Regions from separate parts of the Homo sapiens genome. Here region 1 is linked to region 2. Evidence: fine-mapped expression QTL. A gene starts in region 2. The other region holds a variant in brackets. All regions are shown on one strand. Distances are from middle to middle. Region 1 has its middle 6.8 kb from the start of LINC02690. Region 2 holds the start of SLC35C1 (solute carrier family 35 member C1).

What was found. PIP is the estimated chance that this variant, and not a neighbour inherited with it, causes the effect.
Region 1: its variant is the best candidate, but not a certain one, in a credible set for the expression of SLC35C1 in prefrontal cortex (ROSMAP, PIP 0.65).

Annotation. Positions count from the first base shown.
Region 1 is chr11:45,743,307-45,746,209 of GRCh38, forward strand. No RefSeq gene overlaps it. Among named protein-coding and RNA genes, the nearest start is that of LINC02690, 6.8 kb to the right of the region's middle. RefSeq lists enhancers at 123-689, 826-1,327, 1,328-1,827. The variant G/A (reference allele first, on the strand shown) is at 1,327.
Region 2 is chr11:45,804,120-45,806,990 of GRCh38, forward strand. SLC35C1 (solute carrier family 35 member C1) reads left to right here and starts at 1,030. Exons shown (of 2, transcript NM_018389.5): 1 at 1,030-2,217. The coding sequence starts at 1,683. RefSeq lists silencers at 155-324, 1,055-1,284.

The DNA of each region.
Region 1 (2,903 bases), 61 kb before region 2:
GGGTGACAGAGAGAGACCCTGAAAAAAAAAAAAAAGAGGAAAGGAAGAAAGGAAGGAAGGAAGGAAGGAAGGAAGGAAGGAAGGAAGGAAGGAAGGAAGGAAGGAAGAGAGAGAGAGAGAAAGAGAGAAAGAGAGAGAGAGGGAGGGAGGGAGGAAGGAAGGAAGGAAGGAAGGGAAAGGAAGGAAGGAGGGAAGGAAGGAAGGAAAAGAGAAAAGAAATTGTGTTTTTTTATGTTAATAAAGGAAAGTATTCTTATATCATAAATTTGGTTTTTTGAATACTTTAGTAACTGTTTTCAGTTTCTTTTATAATCCTGTGTATTTTATATCTTTCAAATCATTTTTTGGAAGACAGGCCTAATAGGCTTTATCAGACCATTAAATGGTGCCCATGGCACAAAAGTGGTTAAGATCTCCCTGCCTTGGAGAATAGGTAGATTGTTATTACAGCGATGGGAGGGAAGTATACATCCCAAATAGATGACCAGAACAGCATAAACCAAGATACAGGTGGGGAAGAGTATGAGATGCATGGCGGGATGGAATGTGCCTCCCCTCCCCATCCTTGAGGAGAAAGTCTCCTTGGCAAGATTAAGTAAAAAGACAGCGACTTTATTAGCATAATAATGCATCAAGGAGCAAGAGAATAGTTGATTTGTTTTAGACATGCTCTAAGAATCTGGAGAATTTAAATTCTGAAGGCTCTAACGTCTCCTCTGCAGGGTGGAGCCAAGACTCTGAGGAGAGGGCTGAACTGTGAACCTAGAAGTACCATCTCCCCCTGCACACACCTTTGGTCAAGTTGACCCCAAGAAGAAGGACAAGTCCTCTGCACGGCGATGAGGCCATACACACAGTCTGTGGCCCGGCTTTGGGAGACTGATGGGACAAAGGATGTTTTGCACGATCCTTGGTCTCTGAGCAAATATATACATGGGTTAACACAAAGGCTCTCTTTTTGAAAAATGTGACTGTGAAAGTGTGCCCTCCCAGATATTCCAGGCATAACACAGGAGTGACTGCATGTTTGGGGACAGTGCGGAGGCCACTCTGATTAGATCAGAGGATGTGGACTGGTTCATGATGTAAAAGCTGAAGGGAGGCCGGGCACAGTGGCTCACGCCTGTAATCCTAGCACTTTGGGAGGCCAAGGTGGGTGGATCACGAGGTCAGGAGATCGAGACCATCCTGGCTAACAAGGTGAAACCCCGTCTCTACTAAAAATACAAAAATTAGCCAGGCGTGGTGGCAGGCGCCTGTAGTCCCAGCTACTGGGGAGGCTGAGTACTGGGGAGGCTGAGGCAGGAGAATGACGTGAACCTGGGA[G/A]GCAGAGCTTGCAGTGAGCTGAGATCGCGCCACTGCACTCCAGCCTGGGCAACAAAGCGAGACGCTGTCTCAAAAAAAAAAAATGCTGAAGGGAGGGTGGTAATGAAGGGAAGAAGACTCCAGGGTTTCAAGTGCCATGGATTAAGGGAGGGAGTAAAGGCAGAGGGCCAGGACAGATGGTTGGATCTGTCTTAGAGGTGAGGTACCTTCAAGATGCCTCAGGGAAAATGGCCAGTAGTCCATCAGGACTCAAGAGTAAGACTCCAGGAAGACACTTGAAATGGGAAGAGAGCTAAGAAAATAATCCACATAGAGGTGATCATTAAAGGCGTAAAGAATAAAGCAATAACGTAAAAAAAAAAAAAAAAAAAAAAAAAAAAAGCAAGGACTGAACTTTAGGGAACAAGTAAGTAGGCTTCTTTTGTGTCCCAAAGCCAGAGAACGAGAACATTTCAAGAAGAGGGGTTAAATTCAGCCTGAAGAAGGAAGTTGCACAAAATCTCTGGATGTGGCTACCGGGAAGGCCTTGGTGAATTCTGAGCGAGCCGTTCCCACGGAGGGAGCAGTGGATGGAGGCCAGCTGAGGACTGCCGGGGTAGAGGGTGGGTGGAGCAGCCAAGGGAGACAGGAGAGGGTGGGAGCCAATGAAACGGAGAGAGGGAGGCTAGGAGATTTGCAGGCCAACAGCATCACATTAAGTTTCTTTTTAACAAGACGATCCAGTTTTTCATTAGAGAAAGAAGGAAACTGCAAATCAGGGGTATTTAAAGGTCGTGTGAAAATCACGAAAACCTCAAGTTGAATCTGTTCCCACCTAAATAACTTTTGTTTAGAAACCAAGCAAAGCCACTGAAACCATCTCAGCACAAATCCCAAAATGGAATTATTCGGATGTCTCTGAAATGGTGTAGGTGCCATGAGCCACTGTGCTAATATGCAGTGTGTCCACACAGAGCCCAGGGCCCAGTGGTGTCAGAGACAAAGGCCAGAGCTTCCCAGAAAGTTCCATAAGGACAGGAATTCAGGAAGTGGGGTCAAGGGAAGAGCTGCTGTCACTGAATATACTGCAGCTTAAGAAAATGATCCTGTTTAACCAGCACCTACTATGGGCTAGGCACTTCACCGACATTTTTCTCATCCTGAACAAGACTACGAAGTATTTTTTCTGTTACTATCCCCACAGTGGAGATAAGGAAACACAGGTTCAGGGTAAGTTGCCTCAAACCCACAGTTCGTAAGTGGCAGAGATAACCTTGGAGCCCAGGTATATCTGCCTCTAACCCCACCGTGTTCCCATCCGGCCTGGAACCTCACCCAAACACACTGGACCCTCAAAAATAAAAAAATGAATAAATAAATAAATAAGTGTCATTATCACCTGTAACAGCCAGTAAAAGACAAGTGCCCCTTGATGTGAGTGCAGCATAACTTTCCCAGTTTGACCTCTTCAAAAGTTGGGTTTTGTTGTTTTTTAAATTATCCTGAACTTGACAAACTTTATTTTAAAAAAAAAATTCACTCACTTAGTCTTTGAGTAAATGAAGAATAGGGCCATGTGTCAGTGCTGGGGACACAAG
Region 2 (2,871 bases):
GGATACAGCCAAGTCCCGGGACGTGCCAGCTGCGGTAACTGAAGCCGGGTCCCGGGCGGGCGGGGGTACCAGGGACAGGAGTAGCCTTGGAAAGAGGAGAGGGCCTCCTCCCACGACCGTCCGGATCACCGCCTCTCCGCCGGCACCCCCGGGGCCCATGCCGCGAACAGGCCGGCGAGGCTGGCAAGGTGCCCGGGCCCGGGGCGGAAAGCAGGAAGTCGATCCCGCGGGCGCGGCCCAGGGTGCGGCGCTGCAGATGCAGCACGGGGTCGCGGGGCGGGCGCCCAGTGCACCGGAGGAGGTGAGCGCCAGGTCGCCTTCGCGGCCCGGGGACACAGGCAGGGACGCGGGAGCTGATGCGGCTGGACCGGCCGGGGAAACAGTATTTTCTGGAAGGGGTAAGAGATGCTGTCTTGAGCCTTTGGAATCTCGGATCCGGGCCGCCCAGAGGACCTCGACAGGAGCACAGGGAGGACAAACTGAAGTCCGAGAGAGGCGGCGTGGCCTCCGGCCTCGGGGAGCGCTGCCGGGGGTCTCGGGCTTGGGAGAGGGCCTGGGGGCGGTGAAAATGGGGGGAAAGGAGGGGACCACAACATTGTTATGGAAGAGTGAGCTCGGATTGGCAGAGGGACGCGGGGCTGCAACGCGAGTCTCCGGAGGTGGAGGGGTCCAGGCTGATGTAGCGCCGCCCGGGTCCTGGGTCGGGGTTCCGGGAAGTGGACCTGCGAGCCAAGCCTAGCCAAGTCGGGGGACGGAGGCTCCGGGGCGGACGGAGCTGAGGGTGGGCAGGCGAGGTTGATGGAGCCCTTCCAGGAAGCAGGGCGAGGCTCAAGCACCCAGAAAAACCTGTGGCTGCCGAGGTCCCCCGCCAGCAGCGGGCAGCGGAGCGCAGGGGCGGGGCTGGGGACTGGCGAACTCCGCCTCTCTGGGGCTGTCGCTTTAAGGGCAAGGCGGGGCGTGCGGGCCCTTTAAGGCCACGTGGGGGCGTGTCAGGAAGTGAGTCCAGGGCCCGCCTCCCGGGGAGTCGGCCTCGGATGTCCGGAGGCTCCTGGGCTGAGCCGGCGACAGAGCCCGGGAAGGCAGCGAGACGTGGGCGCCGGCCCAGCCCCCTCCCGCGTCCTTCAGCCCCAAGCCCCGAGCCCCTCTGACCCTTCCGCAGCCCTCCCTCCAGCCGCGCCCGGCCTCCGGCAGCTCCCTGTACGCCTCCCTCCCCCTGCCCGCCCCTCCCTCCCACAGCCGCCCATGACGCCCTCTCGGCACCTCTTCCCACTCTGCCACGCGTCCTTTTCCTGCACCTTCGCCCCGCGTACCTACTCCTGCCCCGCCCTGCCATTCCTCTCCCCTCCCTTCTCTCTGCGACCCCTCCCTGTTAGGCCCCAGCCTCTTCTCCCCTCACAGGTCTTCTCTGTCCTGGCCTCACCGCCTTATCCTATTCCTCTCCCTTGCCCTGTGTCTTGTCTCAGAGCCCCCTCGGGGTGGGAGTAGGTTGTGGAGCAGCACAACTGGGCTCACCCCAAAGCAGAACTTCTCAATCCATGAGGACAATGGGGAGGCCTTTAGGCCAGCCCACATGTGACAATGGAGGGCTGCGGCTTCCTTGCGGAGAGCACAAGTGAGCTCACTGCCCTGGACTCCAGGGAATCAGAGTTCTGGCCGCGGGGTGACCCAGCTCCTCTGCTACCATGAATAGGGCCCCTCTGAAGCGGTCCAGGATCCTGCACATGGCGCTGACCGGGGCCTCAGACCCCTCTGCAGAGGCAGAGGCCAACGGGGAGAAGCCCTTTCTGCTGCGGGCATTGCAGATCGCGCTGGTGGTCTCCCTCTACTGGGTCACCTCCATCTCCATGGTGTTCCTTAATAAGTACCTGCTGGACAGCCCCTCCCTGCGGCTGGACACCCCCATCTTCGTCACCTTCTACCAGTGCCTGGTGACCACGCTGCTGTGCAAAGGCCTCAGCGCTCTGGCCGCCTGCTGCCCTGGTGCCGTGGACTTCCCCAGCTTGCGCCTGGACCTCAGGGTGGCCCGCAGCGTCCTGCCCCTGTCGGTGGTCTTCATCGGCATGATCACCTTCAATAACCTCTGCCTCAAGTACGTCGGTGTGGCCTTCTACAATGTGGGCCGCTCACTCACCACCGTCTTCAACGTGCTGCTCTCCTACCTGCTGCTCAAGCAGACCACCTCCTTCTATGCCCTGCTCACCTGCGGTATCATCATCGGTGAGTGGCAGCTGGGGCCACGGGGGATAGAGTGGTCATGGGGACTGAAGCAGTGAAGAACAACTCTTCTAGGCATCCTAGGACTTCATCTGTCCCAGCTCCTTTGGTGCAGCAGTCATAGGAGAAAGAGCCTGGGGGCACAGAGAGAGCAAGTAACTTACTAAAGGTCACCCAGCAAGTTAGGAGCCCAGCCGGGGCAAGAACAATAGTAATAATAATAGTAACAACAGCAGCAAAAGCAACTGACATTTGTTGAGTGATTAAAATGTGCCAGGCACATGGATCTTAGCCATATTAACTCAGCTAATCTTCATAACAAGATGGGATTATAATCCACATTTTACAGAGGGAAAAACCAAGGCACAGAGAAGTTAACTAACTTGTCCAAGATCACCCAGCTAATAAGTGGCAGAGCTGGGATCTGAACTCAAGCAATCTGGCTTCACAGTTCACATGCCCGACCACTGTACTTTATTGTTTCTCAAGAGCTCAGGTGTCCTGATTTCCCAGCCAGTGCTCTTAGTAGAGGACAATACGTCTTTTAATAAATATACCATCACTCTCTGCCAGCTCAGGATAGCGCCTGAGACAGTAGCAAGCAATATGCTTTGAGAGGCCTCAGCTGTCTTCCTGGACTTGACCCTCAGAAAATAA